Linked DNA regions of Homo sapiens. The protein of the gene in region 2 purifies or fractionates together with the protein of the main gene of each other region. This does not show direct contact. Each region holds a gene or a part of one and is shown on either strand. Other genes may lie near its edges.

Region 1 (3,500 bases), on a different chromosome or scaffold from region 2:
GAGAGAACTGGATCTCGTATGTCCACAGGCACCTGGGGAGGTCAGGCCAAGAACAAGGCTGGGGTCAAGACAGTCCTCAAAGGTGGGAGCAGGCAGGGCACGGCCGCGTGGACCCACAGCCTCATTCCCTCAAGCCCCTCGGCGGCACCTCCCCAGCCCCTGGGCACTCTTCCTGCCCAGGCAGGAGAGGGCTGGAGCCCGAATGTCCATCTCATGTCCCCTAGGAGAACCCACACCCCACTGGCAGGGCCTGGCGCGTGGCCCACAGTGTGTGGGGTGAAGGGCAGGGACGCAGGGCGGCGAGGGAGGGAGCCGATGGGCCACGGCAAGTGGCCCGAGTGACCGCATGGGTGAAGGGGTCGGGACCCAGGGACCTGCCTAGGACCAGGCAGAGGGAGGGGCGGCCCCACTCACGCACTTGGAGCCCACGTGTTCATCCGACCAGACCAGAACCAGCTGCCCTTGGGTCAGGGGCAGGGCGCGGAGCCGCGTGACCTGGGGGAGGGAAGGGCTGTGATGGCGTCGGGGAAGGGGAGTCCGGGCCGCGGCGCGGGTTAGGGGACTGCCACTTGCCTGCCCGGGCGGCTTCTCGGGGCGCGCACACACGTGCACCAGCAAAAGCGACGGCAGCCGCAGCGCGGGGCGCAGGGTCAGGCGGCCGCCGGCGGGTAAGGGGCGGGGCGCCGCGGCCACCGGGTCCTGGGCGCAGTGGCCGGTCCTCAGGGTTCTCCAGGGGAGCTGGGGACGCTCGGCCCGACCTCAGGGCGAACGCCCCCGGCCCACCGCTCCACCTCCCACCCACACCGCCTCGGAGCCCCCGCCCCGGACCCCACCCCCCCGGGACCCCGGCCCGGCCCGGCCCCTCGCCCCTCCGCGGCCCACCTACCTCAGCCGCGCGCATGCGCCGGAACTGCTCTGCCGTGGGGAAGACGGGCCGGCCCAGGCGCCGCCACTCGCCGTCGGGGCTGCAGAGCCCGTTGTCCAGGTAGCGCGTGACGTAGACCAGGCCTGCGGGGCCTGACACTCAGGCCTCGGCTCCCCGGGCCGCCCCCTCCAGAGCCCCAGCGGGGCCAGAGACCTCCCTGGAACCCCGGCTTACCCGGGCCGGGGGGCACCCCGCGCAGCCGCAGGGTCACCGCGACGCTGCGGTTGGGGTGGGCGCGGGTGTCGTCGCTCGCGTAGATCAGCACCGCGGCGCGCCAGGCGTCGGCCGGGCCCTGGGGGCGGTGGGCGCTGGCCAGGACGCCCACCGTGTGGTTGCTGTCCAGGACGGTCCCGGCCTGCGACACTTCGGCCCAGAGCTGCTCCTCATCTGCGGGGCGGGGGGGGGCCGTCGCCGCGTGGGGTCGTTGCCCAGCCGCCCCCCGACCCAGGGCCGGGCCTCCCACCACTCGCTCCCCCTCCCCTTGGTGAAGGAGTCCCCAGGCCCCGCCACGCGGAGGCCGACCCCGGGAAGCGCGCGGCTGGAGGAAGTGCGCTCCCCGCAGCGGGGCCTTCGCAGGAGCCGCTCCCCAGCCTGGAGGGCCCTGGCCGGCCCACCCCAGCGGCCCCGGCTCACCCAGCAGCGCCAGCAGCCCCATGGCCGTGAGCACCGGCTTGCGCAACAGCTGCACGTGCGGCGGGCGGGTGTTGTTGACCTGGAAGCGCGCGGTGAGCGTGCGCTGCGCGAAGGGGTGCGGGTGGTAGCTCAGGAAGGCATTGTCGTTGCTCAGGAGCGCGTAGGGGAAGGCGGAGGTGGTGTTGGCCAGTAGCAGGTTCTGATGCTGCGCGATGACCTGCGGGTGTCCAGGGCAGCTGGGACCGGGTGGCGCGGCCACCGCTCGCCTGTCCCGTCTCGGGAGGAAGGTGGCCGGGGGGCGCGCAGGGCGTTGGGCCGGCCCACCTTCACCACCATGGCCGCGTAGGTCACGTCCGCCCTCCACGGCTGTGGCAGGGACCAGCCCACCAGCGGGTCCGCCTCGTCGTTGTAAATGGGGGTGTCCGCGAACTTGGGGAAGAGCTGCCGGATCTGCTGCGCGACGACCTTCTCCTGCTCCAGGATGGAGATGGAGCTGCGCGCACCCTGCGGGCGGGGCCGCCTCAGCACCACCAGGGTCAGCGCGGCCCGGGGCACAGCGGCTGAGGGCGCAGAACACCGGGGCGGACGGAGGGGCAGGGCGCACCTTCCTGTGGAGGGAGATGTAGTCCAGCCGCACGCCCGCCTCCCCAGTGAAGAAGTTGGTACCGTCGTGGCAGTGGCGCAGGAGGCCCCAGCTCAGCGGGGATCGCGGTGGGGTGTGGAAGGAGTCGCCGGGGCCTCCCAGCCGCAGGGCGGGGCTGGCGGCGCGCAGACCCTCCGAGCAGGCATCGTAGTAGTTCAGGAAGCCTGGGCCGGGGGAGCACTGCGTCTACACCTGCCCTGGGGATGAGCGGCTTAGCCTCTGCTCCTGCCTTCCTCTGCCCCCTTTCAGCCGGGCAGGACCCCAGGAAGCGGTGCACACCTTGCATGGTCATGGAGACGTTGTCAAAGTCGTGGTGGTCTGGCTCATTCCACGTCTCGAAGTTCCACTTGGAAACATGCGCCAGTCCGTACCTACCTGCAGAGGAGCCTTGCTGTCCCCCCAGCACAGGTGAATCTCGCCTCAGTGACTCCCACGGAGGGAGGGTGCAAGGTGATGAAGGGCGTCTGACTCAAGATGAACCCCATCTCCATGCAGGCCAGCCTCCCGCCCCACATCAGGAAGCGCTGGCTCAAGGGGGTCCAAGACCTGGGCGGCGGCCTGGGTGATAGGGGTGCGGCCTGGGTGATAGGGGTGCAGCCTGCCCAGGAGTACCCCCCACCCCAGGGGCCCAGGGCCTTCGCCCACCCACCAAGCCCAGGAGTACCCCCCAGCCTGGGGCCCCAGGGCCTGCGCCGACCACCAACCTATCCCTTGTCACCCCCATCCCCCCACAAGGGCCTGCGCCTGCCCACCAATGTATCTCCTGACCAGGCAGCAGCCTGCGTGATAGGGGTGCAACCTGCCCAGGAGTACCCCCGCCCCGGCCAGGGCCCCAGGGCCTGCGCTCGCCCACCGATGTATCTCCTGGCCAGGCTGGAGACCAAGTCCTTCCACTCAAACACCTGCTGCTTGTCCTCAAAGTCAGTGAAGTGGCCCGAGGCGCTGCCCATCAGCTCAAACCCTGGAACACAGGAGGGCTGCCCCACCGCCCACCACACACCACACCCATGCTCTGCCAGGCCTGTGCTCCGGCACCAAGGCCAGCCCTGAATGGACATCCAAGGACTCAGAGGGGCTGGGTGAGGGAGAGGGTGGGCAGGGCAAGGGGGTGCAGGCGGGCTGGGAGGGCAGAGCCCACAGCTCACCTGGGAGGAGCTGGTTCTCCCTGAGAAGGTCCAGGTACCCGTCCAGGTGGGTGAAGTTGTAGCTCAGGCCCCGTCCAGTGGACCCCCTGCAGAAGGACGGTCAGCGTCAGGAAGCAGGGTGCCCACACAGCTCCATGCTCCAGGCTGGAACCGT
Region 2 (3,500 bases):
CTGCTTTACCAAGGCCCAGTATCCCAGACACTGGCCACTTGCTTTTTCATATCCTTTCCTGAGGTTTCTTCTCACTGCTAGTAAATAGCAGTGCAAGTCTTAATATATTATGAAATAAAGCTACAATCACAATGACTAACTCCATGCAATATAGGAAAAGCCTCGCTGAACAGATGCCACAGAGCCAAGCATCTCCCACCCAGCCCTCTTAGTGTCTACCATGAACATCCTCACAGAGCAACTCCACCGCCTATTACGGGGAGGCCTCTAGCTTCAGCCCTAGGGGCAAAAGTAAGGCAGGGCTCAGCAGCGTTCCAGAAATCAGGGGTGCTCAGGTAGAGAAGCAAAGTGGCCTTCCCAGGGATAGGACTACTGAGGTCAAAAGGAAAGGCAGGAAAAGCCACAGAAGAATTGGAAGTGGCAGGAAGTCTAGACAGAGTGAGCAATGGCTGGGGGGAAATAAATTACGATAAAAACACATTTCTTTATTTTAAAAGCCACAGTCATGGTGCAGGCATTTTGCTGTTGACCTGAACAACAAAATGGGCCTTATGCTCTGTGATGAGATAAGTGAGTAAGGGGTGAACCAAGAGGGGTGGTTCACTTGGAGTGCCTGAACATGATCCTTCACCGACAGGGAGAAGCCTTGGCCAACAGAACCATTAATCACTGTCTGCTCCCTTCATTTGCGTAAGAAATGTGATTCACTCCAATAAAACTGGCTATTGGCAGAGGGGAATCGAACGTCTGACTTGTGAGTCTAAAAGAGCCAGCTGTTCCAGCCTCCAGGATTCAGTGAGAACTTCCTATTTCAAGTTAAGTTCCCAGCTGTCCCAAGGCTTAGGAAAGGGGGATAAACCCAGCCACCCCCACCTCTAGACACATGCTCCAGCCAACAGCAGGAGTGTTGCAGATTTTATCAGCTTCTTAAATGCATTAGGGGTTGAAATTAGACACCTCGGTGTGGTTTAAGAGCAAGAGAAGGGCCAAGTGAACCCAGGTTGGGATAACAAATGAGACAAGAGTCGTGAGAAAAGGCCTGAGGTCCAACTTCCAATTGAAAGGTTTTCTAGCCTCCCTGAAATCCTACATCCAAGGGCCCCACACCCCAGTGGCCTTGGGATCACAGCGGGGGTCCTGTGCAGGGAAGTACACGGGGACTGAGTGTTTATGGTAGAACTGTAGGCGGGACAGGAGCTTTGTGACGATGTGAGGATATTCTCTGGACAGGTCATGTCTTTCTTCAGGGTCCCGATCAATATCAAAGAGCCAGAGGGTCTTGGTTGGTGGGTCTGATGAGGGTATCTCAGAAACATTGTATTGAGACGGTGGAGGGAACCAGTAACCACAGCCTAGCAAAGAAAACAAAACAGTTTACTGAGGGAGAAGCACAGAGGCAGGTTCTAATTTCAGGGAAGGAGTCTGAGGCCAAGGCTGCACTGGGTTGTGGGTGTGGAAACATAAAAAGATGCGGCCCTAGATGCTGTCTCTAGATGCTTCTCAGACTTGACTTCTGGTGCTTTAACTAGACATGTCTCACTGCTTCACAAGCAAGGACACCCAGAAACGTGTGTGCATGTGTGTATGTCCTTGTCACAAGGACTAGGGCATAGGGGTGCTCCTGGCATTTAGTGGGCATGAGCTAGTGATGCTAAAGTCTTGCAATACATGGGACAATCCCAGTCAAAAAAGACTTGTCATATTGCAAACGCCAAAAATGTTCTCATTGTAAACATTGATTAATTACATCACAGCCTTAACCATCATCCCACATATTTTAAAAGTATTGAAAAGATATCACTCTTAGAGAATATAATCAGAGGAGCAACCTCCTTCCCCAGCTATACCACTGGTTGAGGGTGTAGCTCTCAGAGACTCTCTTTGTTAGCTAAATGTGCTGTGCTTGATAGCCACATATATTTAAAATCCGTATTTTCCATGAAGCATAAGAGTGACATTTCTTCCTTTCACCCCTGCTACAGTTAATTCTCTCTGTCTTTCTCTCTCTCTCTCTTTTTTTTTTTTTTTTTTTTTTTTTGGTTAGGACGAGTAGGTTAAACCATTTCTTCCTATCTCCTCATTCAGCAGCCCCAGAGATATGTTTTGCAAAAGGCATTTGTTACTTCGGTAAGCTTCTCCTTGATGATCCACTGGGAAAGCTTACTTGCACCATGACAATGATGGAAGCTGTGTAATTGGGAACAGGCGGAGTCTTAGAATTGGGAAAAGAAAACCCTGAATAAATAGTTGTCTTTCTAGGACATATATCAGGAGGGATCATGAAAGATTAGAAAGACAAATTAAGATTTCAGGTATCTGAGCAAAGTGAGGTAAGTGGTAGGGCTTAGGGGCCTTGAGGAGGAGCCACAGAGGAAGAGGTGGGAAACGGTTAGAACAAGAGTGATAATGTCCTCTCTTTCCAGAGAAATGGCCGTGGGAATCAAATCCCAGGAGGGCAGATAGACTGGAGATACTGCCCTGAGGACACAGCCCTGCTTTGTCTACCACGGGAAGGGAAGTTTGCTAAGCTAAGGACTCTACCTGGGTAGCCCGTGAGGAGTTTCCAATTTCCATGTCTAATTGCAGCATGGACAGATGTGTTAAAGGCTGAATATTCTGGAAGAGAAGAGTCATCCTTTGCTGGAGCCATGCTGTTCCTGGGACCTGGGAAGAAATAGTTTGAAAGAATTAGATCACTGTTATTGGAACGTGTTGTTATAAATCAGCATTTTATACCCTTGCAGAACAGTAGCTTTTATTCAACACTGGAGTGCAAATGTGTATCTTGCCACAGAAATGAATCTTTTATTAAATCCAAACAGAAAGCTATAGTTACATGAAATGTCAGTCATAAACCACCGCAAATATAAAGGAAATCCCAAAGAGATTACAACACTAATTCATCCTTAAAATCGCTATGTTCTGCCAATGTACAGCTAGCCATATGCAGAACAGTGTTCTGTTACAGCAGAGTGACTTTTTTTTGGTTTTTGTTTTTGGCTGTTAAACATTTAAACACACTTTCTGTGTATACTTATACCTATGTAAATAGTATAAGAAATTATAAAATGTACATTTTCATGCAGTCATTTCAAGCTATGAGAGTTCATGCATGCCATGATAGAGTACAAAGACTTATTTTTTAACAACTCTTAAGGAATCTAAAAGTGAGCAGTGCTCAGTTAACTATTCAGACAGGATAACTATGGGGGTAAGAACAAATTTGGTATACAAATTTTTGGCTGGTATCATGGATTATATTAATTTATCATTTTTGAGATCTTAATTGATCATCAGGTTGGTTTTTTGCTTTTGTGGGGAGCAATTACTAATCTCTACCACCTCTTAAGTTTGAAACCAATTAAGAGGTAGAAGATAGACAGATGGAACAAAAAATACTGCTTTTGTTACTGACAAAATTGACTGGAGAGAATACAGCTTCAGATCTGTAGCAGAGAGATCTTGTTTGTAACTGACCCTTGACTTAGAAAGATTTAATC
Region 3 (3,500 bases), on a different chromosome or scaffold from region 2:
GGCATTAGAGGCTGCAACAGGAAGAAAGGGGCTTCCAATTCCCACACTGAAGCAGAGTTCTGGCTTTCATGATATAAGTATGTATTAAGCACCAACTATATGCCATGGATTAAAGTAAATACTAAGTACTACAAATATAACAGCAAAACACATAGGGGTTCTTCAAATAACCTCCATTCTGAAGAAGATACGTATTACATAAACAATACATAGGTATATATTTCTAAGAATATGAAAGTAAAATAAAATATTCTGTGAAAACATATACCATTGCACAAAGCAACAAGGAGTGAGGGTTGAAAATACTGCAGGTTTCTCACATGAGATACCTTAACAAGTCAGTCTGGGAGGTGGGGATAGGGTGAGAGTTATCTAAGTGAAGGTAAGACGATGTATGAAAACCTTAAGGTAAGAAGGAATTTAGGATGATTCAAAGAATTTAATACAGGCCAGTGCGAGGCATGGTGGCTCACGCCTGAGAGGCCAAGGCAGGAAGACTGCTTGAGGCCAAGAGTTCCCGACCAGCCTGGTCAACATAGCAAGACCTCATCTCTACAAAAAATTTAAAAATTAGCCAGGTGTGGTGGCACATGCCTGTAGTCCCAGCTACTTGGGAGGATCACCTGAGCCCAGGAGGTCGAGGCTGCAGTAAGCTGTGTTCATACCACTGTACTCCACCCTAGGCAGCAGAGTTAGACCCTGTCTCAAGAAAAAATAAAAAAGAAAATAAATTAAAAAAAATTGGTCAGTAAACGCAGAGCCATACAGAGCACATTACAATGTGTGTGTGTGTGTGTGTGTGTGTGTGTGTGTGTGTGTGTGTGTGTGACAGGTTCTCACTCTGTCGCTCACACTGAAGTGCAGTGGCACCATCACAGCTCACGGCAACCTCCACCTCCCAGGCTCAAGCCATCCTCCCACCCCAGCCTCCAGAGTAGCTGGGACCACAGGCGCACGCCACCATGCACGGCTAATTTTTTCTATTTATTTTTTGTAGAGATAGGGTTTCACCACGTTGCGTAGGCTGGTCTCAAACTCTTGGGCTCAAGCAATACTCCCACCTCAGCCTCCCAAAGTGCTGGGATTACAGGCGTGAGATATCACGCCTGACCATATTACAGATGTTTAAAAATGTGACCCTAATATGTAGGAGTAGCCATGGAAAGGCTTTAAGCAAAGGACCAAGAGCAAACTTGTAGATCTGTGTTTTTAAAAATCACTCTGGATGGTATAAGAAGAATGAATTGAAGAGAGGAAAGAAAAGGTCCAAGATGACTAAGTTAGGAAGCTACCACAGTTGTCCAAGTGAAAAATAATGGTGGCTTGGACCAGCTGGAGCAGTGGATACAAAAGAAGCAGACAGTTTCAAGACATTAGATTCAAAACAGTAGGTCTTAGTGACTGAGCACACACAACTCCCACCATCTGGCCTGGGCAACTAAGTGGACAGAGGTATGACTACTGAGATGGGCCTCACTAGAGAAGCAGAGGTGTGATGGGTGGGGAAAGCATATCATTAAGCTCAAGTAAAAGGTCAAAGAGGTAGTTGGTTATGTGATCAGGTTTTCAGAAGAGTCTGAGGTCCTGAGAAGAGTCTGCTCAAATATGGGCATCTCCACTGAGATAGTATTTAAAAGCATGGACGTGGATGTGAGTCCGCAGGAGAAAGCAAGGAATGAACAAGAAATTTATCAATCCCAAGCCCTGAGGAAACAGTAACATGCAGAGATTAGACAGAAGAGGAGTAAACACCAGTGAAGAACAGGAAAAAGCGTTGGGCCAGAAAAGTAGGAGGAAAACCAGGCAAGTACAGTGCTATGGAAGTGAAAAGGAATGTATTTCAACTAGGTAATGGTCAACGGTGACAAAGAACACTTAAATAAGGATATTAATGATGCTTAGGTTTCCAGGCCAACTCACAGAAACTCATTTCACATATAGGTGGATTACAGCATTCCACTATCTTACAATAAAGCAGTGCAGTACACTGGTTATCACATAGGCTCCAGATCTGCAATGCCCAGGTTTCAATCACAGCACCACTATTTACTAGCTATGTAGCTGTAGGTATAAATTACTTCATGTCTCTATCCCTCAGTTTCCTCATCCATAAAAGGATGGTAAAAAGAATGCCTACCTCAAAGGATTTTTATAATGAATTTTGATAAATGAATGTATGTATTCATTTATTCATGATAAATGAATTTTGATAAATGAATGTACGTGTGACTTAAAACAGCTAGCACAAATTAGTTGCTAGTGATGTAAATGACAGCTACTATTACTTACAACACGGTTTCCATGGGAAAAAACTTTCTGAACTCTAACAGTGGAAGTTTGTCTGAAATAACCTTTCATTAACTTGAGATTGTTCTTACGCCTTACAAATTATGATCTATAAGGCCTTTTCCCAAAAACCTTGAGGAAAACTCTAGATTTGAAATGTATCAAACAAATGTCCATCATATAGAAACTGACAGGTTTTAGAAGAGCTAATCATTACTTTGGTTTTTCAGAGGAGTATTTATCATACTCATTATACCTCATACTAAAAAAAAGTATGCATTAGGAATTCTAAAAACTGGTGCCAAAAGTTATTTCAAGTTAGAAAGGCAAAAAACAGGCCAGGCACGGTGGCTCACACCTGTAATCCCAGCACTTTGGGAGGCCAAAATGGGCGGATCACCTGAGGTCAGGAGTTCAAGACCAGCCTGGCCAATGTAGTGAAACCCCATCTCTACTAAAAATACAAAAATTACCAGCCTGGCCAATGCGGTGAAGCCCCATCTCTACTAAAAATACAAAAATTAGCCAGGTGTGGTTAGCTACTCAGGAGGCTGAGGCAGGAGAACTGCTTGAACCCGTGAGGCAGAGGGTGCAGAGAGCTGAGATCACGCCGTTGCACTCCAGCCTGGGCAACAAGAGCGAAACTCCATCGCAAAAAATAAAATAAAATAAAATAAATAAACCTATTTAAATACAAAATATTTCCATTCCCTTACTTTCTGGTGCATATTCAAATACGAACACATCGATTATCACCATAAAACAGCCTGCCTCTTCCTGTTGTGACCAAGATATAAGTATCAAGTACAGAATGCGGCAATGGATCTGCAGACTCTTGATGACCTTCTTATTTCCCAAGCTATGCAAAGGTATTTACAACATCCAAAACTGCACCCCAAAAGGTATTTCCAACTGCGTGGTGTTCAGCAAAGGACATGTTCATTCATTTAGTTCCTAAAACGAACTGAAATTAGCATAAATAAATGAAGATTTATATGGCCAGTCCTTATCCCTGTACTTTCCAAGTACCTAGCAAGTACTCTGAGAAATATTCAAAAATCTTTCTATAAGCCCCATTTAAGGTATAATGCTGGAGTTTCCCACTCTATTTTTCCACTGTTAGTACAATAAAACTACCTAATAACTAACAGAGCTGTTGTATTCAAAAAAGTATTGTTTCAAACTCATGAAAAGCTGTTTATCATGTACCTTCC
Region 4 (3,500 bases), on a different chromosome or scaffold from region 2:
CACTATGAAATGGTGGAGCTGGGATTCAAACTCTTGTTCCTAATCACTATACCATGTCTATTTATAACAAAAAGACACCATCAAATGAGGTAATGCATATAAAATGACAAACACTGAGCCAGATATGGAGTAAGTTTTCATTACAATGATTATAACTTTATGCCCTGAAGATGCACCAGACTCTACTGGGAATGTGACATGTTTTCTCAATTTTATTTTATAACAACTCTATGCTCTTAGCACCTCTAGTTCCTGGAGAAGGAAACTTAAGTTCTTAAAACCAGTAATTTGCCCAGGGAGATGGAGTTAGGAAGCCTTCTAAATGAAAATGGAGTTGGAAAGAGACCTGGATTTTTCTGCTATTTCTGTGAAAATCTAGTGGATGTATAGATAACTTTTGTACAAATAATTATTTGTAACATGATTGCTTTTCAATGTCAGACAAATGAGAACACAGATAAGCCTGAGCACAGATGAAGAGCTTCCAGAAAAATACACCCAGCGTCGCAGGCCGTGGCTCAGCCAATTGTCAAATAAGAAGCAAGTAAGTATCATTTTGACAGGCAAGAGGGGAATGGAGAAGGTTGTCTTTTTAGAGTCTTCATTCATGAGGTGCTGTTTGTTGCCCAGAATCTAGTATCCTGCTTGGCATAAAATAAGTGCTCAGTAATTTGTGAAGGAATGTTCTAGAAGAAAGTAAAAGGAAAAAGAAAAGACCAGTTAAAATAGGCTACTTATATTTAAAGGCAGAACTTGAAAATGGGCAATGAGTGGGAAAAAACATATTCTGGCTTCTGTCATTTTGAGGCTGAGATTAATTTTCACTTCAGTGAGAAACAGCATTCTTAGGAAGTATGGTAAACCCAAGCACAAACTGCCACCACATAAAAAGAAAAAGGCCATTTTTCTTCTTTTAAGGAGAAAAAAAATCCTTAAAACAAGGTAAAACTATTGAAGAGGAGTACATCATCTTTTGAAAATTTTGATATGAAAAAAAATCCAGTAAAATGCTGTCAAGAGAACTTGTGATCTCAAAAGTGTACAAAATGATGAGTGTATTGCTGGATCCTAAAGGAGTTTTATAGTTAGTCCTTTTCTACATTTATCTCATCCTGGCTTCTGCCTTGGTGTAGCTGGATAAGAAAAGTGAGGCAGAAGGCAAATATGCTTTGTCCCTATATTTTTTAGTACAAATTATTAAAATGATAGTAAAACAACTCACTTATTGGTTTTCACAGTCCAACACGGGCCGTGTGCAGCCGTCAAAACGAAAGCCACTGCCTCCCCTCCCACCCTCTGAGGTTGCTGAAGAGAAGATCCAAGTCAAGGCACTTTATGATTTTCTGCCCAGAGAACCCTGTAATTTAGCCTTAAGGAGAGCAGAAGAATACCTGATACTGGAGAAATACAATCCTCACTGGTGGAAGGCAAGAGACCGTTTGGGGTAAGACACTTACATGACTTAGTCAGTATCCAATTCTTCCAACACAAAGAAGACTACTTAGTGACTCAGGCTTATAACTCTTCCCTCTGCATGAAATGGAATCTGTCCCCTCTCCCCCAGGATGTGTGAGAGAATGAGAGAACAGTGATTTCAGGCAGAGTCTCAGAACCAGATACACCTGGCTTCACATCCTGATGCTGCCGCTTACTATTGTGTGTCCCCGGGCAAGTCACTTACCGTCTCTGAGTTTTTGTTTCTTTATTTGTACAATGGAAATAATAATTCTGACAATGTAGGTTCTTATTCTAATTTGTGCTTTCATTTGGGAATTTGTCAGTTTTTTCCTGTTAAGCTCTAAGGTAAGAACAGAAATAGTATTTTATTCACTTTTATGTTTCTAGAATGACTAGTTTTGAAAGCAAACATTGCAGTCGCTGCTGAATTAGATTAGAAAGAAAAAAGACCCTGGGATGCAGATAGGTTTCATTGTGCCAATTGCAACAGATGGTTAATGCCTGACTGGAGTCCTGAGTTGAGAAGAATTCTGAGGAATATCTGGACTTCCTGAGAGAGAAGGCTGGCATTGATTTCTGATATTTGCCAAGATTTGGAGATTTTAAGTATCTAAGTATTATAAGCATGTAAATTACATACCTCTCCAACTACATTTTCTCAATGATGTGGCTCTCTTAACAGTTCTCAACATGTGGTGGAGACTTTTCAGTGGAAAAAGAGGCATTAGTAGGTTCAGGACTGTGTAATTAGCCACACCTGCGGGTATACTATTGGCATGCCTCAGACTTAAAAATTGAATTTTTTATTTCACAGTAAGTGAATAGAGTTTTTAAAAATATATAATATGCAAACATTAATGTCAAAATTCTGCTTTGCCACTACCTCCAAACCCAAGTGTCTCCCCAAAAGTAAATACTATTATCCATTTTCAGATTATTTTCAGTATACTTACATGCACATATCAAAATATATGGTATTGTTTGTAGAATTCATTTACCTAAATCTTATCTTACTTTCTGCATGATTCTGCAACTTACTTTTATTTCTCAATAATATGTCTTGGAGATCTTTTTGTAATTTCAAATGTTGGTTAAGGTATAGGAAAAGTGAAACTTCTACCATGCTGATAGGTGTGTAAGTTGGTATATCCTCCTTTGAGGACAATTTGTTGCATATCCTGAAAGATGTACATATCCCGTGACTTAGCAATTCCCGTCTTTGCTATCTGTCTTTGAGAAATATTCTTCTGTACAAGAAGGCGTGTTCAAGGATTTCTTTACAGCGTTGCTTCTACTAGCAAAGTAGCTAAACTAGAATACCTATGCTATGGAATACTCCTCAGCAATTGAAAAGAATGAAGTCGATGTCTTTGTAATTGCTGTGTTTTTAACATAATCACTATGATATCAGATGATCATTTAAGTGCCCCTTTTTCTCTCTGAAAAGATTGTGGGGTCATAAAACCTCTTAAACTACTCACATTACAAGTTGGCATCTTAATACATTCCTTGTACAGAGATTTTTGTTGAGTTAGAAATAAAAAAACTTTTTTTTCTCCTTTTAACAATTTAATCAGTAAAATGAATTTGATTTCCCCCCTACATCCTTGAGGTTTTAAAAGGATTGTTGCCATGATAATGCCACAAACATGCCAAGCATTTTGATTTTTGCTTTTTCTTTTGTTGTAGGAATGAAGGCTTAATCCCAAGCAACTATGTGACTGAAAACAAAATAACTAATTTAGAAATATATGAGTAAGTCTTCTCCAAAATATAACCTATGAAAATCAGGGACATTTTGGCAGCTTGTAAGTATAGATACTGTTTTGGGTCTGTAGAAGGAAAAAAAAGTAACACATTTGACAGCGTTAATAATAAAGAGACGTTTGATCCTTATCATGGTTGATTCAGAAACTTCTTTTCCTTATACTTATTTTTGTTCTGTTTTGTATAGCCACTTTTTCTGTTTTAACAGTGACAGCCTGAACCCAAACACTCATCTGGCACTTATTTTACTATATATCTTAACTGGAAAATTTACT

Evidence for each region.
Region 1: the proteins of ARSB (region 2) and IDUA fractionate together in Homo sapiens (co-fractionation; one large-scale study listed by BioGRID). This does not show direct contact.
Region 3: the proteins of ARSB (region 2) and QSER1 fractionate together in Homo sapiens (co-fractionation; one large-scale study listed by BioGRID). This does not show direct contact.
Region 4: the proteins of ARSB (region 2) and TXK fractionate together in Homo sapiens (co-fractionation; one large-scale study listed by BioGRID). This does not show direct contact.

Annotation. Positions count from the first base shown.
Region 1 is NC_000004.12:1,000,544-1,004,043, reverse strand, and holds part of IDUA (alpha-L-iduronidase isoform a precursor), read right to left. Parts: intron 3,433-3,500; coding exon 3,347-3,432; intron 3,163-3,346; coding exon 3,055-3,162; intron 2,577-3,054; coding exon 2,481-2,576; intron 2,366-2,480; coding exon 2,163-2,365; intron 2,063-2,162; coding exon 1,883-2,062; intron 1,776-1,882; coding exon 1,559-1,775; intron 1,313-1,558; coding exon 1,100-1,312; intron 1,009-1,099; coding exon 887-1,008; coding exon of another isoform or gene 700-886; coding exon 574-699; intron 496-573; coding exon 419-495; exon of another isoform or gene 415-418; intron 33-414; coding exon 1-32.
Region 2 is NC_000005.10:78,779,311-78,782,810, forward strand, and holds part of ARSB (arylsulfatase B isoform 1 precursor), read right to left. Parts: intron 2,665-3,500; coding exon 2,542-2,664; intron 1,353-2,541; coding exon 1,087-1,352; 3' UTR 1-1,086. UniProt on the Homo sapiens protein: Removes sulfate groups from chondroitin-4-sulfate (C4S) and regulates its degradation. Involved in the regulation of cell adhesion, cell migration and invasion in colonic epithelium.
Region 3 is NC_000011.10:32,895,811-32,899,310, reverse strand, and holds part of QSER1 (glutamine and serine-rich protein 1), read right to left. Parts: intron 1-3,500. UniProt on the Homo sapiens protein: Plays an essential role in the protection and maintenance of transcriptional and developmental programs.
Region 4 is NC_000004.12:48,110,251-48,113,750, reverse strand, and holds part of TXK (tyrosine-protein kinase TXK), read left to right. Parts: exon of another isoform or gene 1-9; coding exon of another isoform or gene 10-89; intron 90-441; coding exon 442-544; intron 545-1,238; coding exon 1,239-1,444; intron 1,445-3,147; coding exon 3,148-3,213; intron 3,214-3,221; exon of another isoform or gene 3,222-3,500. UniProt on the Homo sapiens protein: Non-receptor tyrosine kinase that plays a redundant role with ITK in regulation of the adaptive immune response. Regulates the development, function and differentiation of conventional T-cells and nonconventional NKT-cells.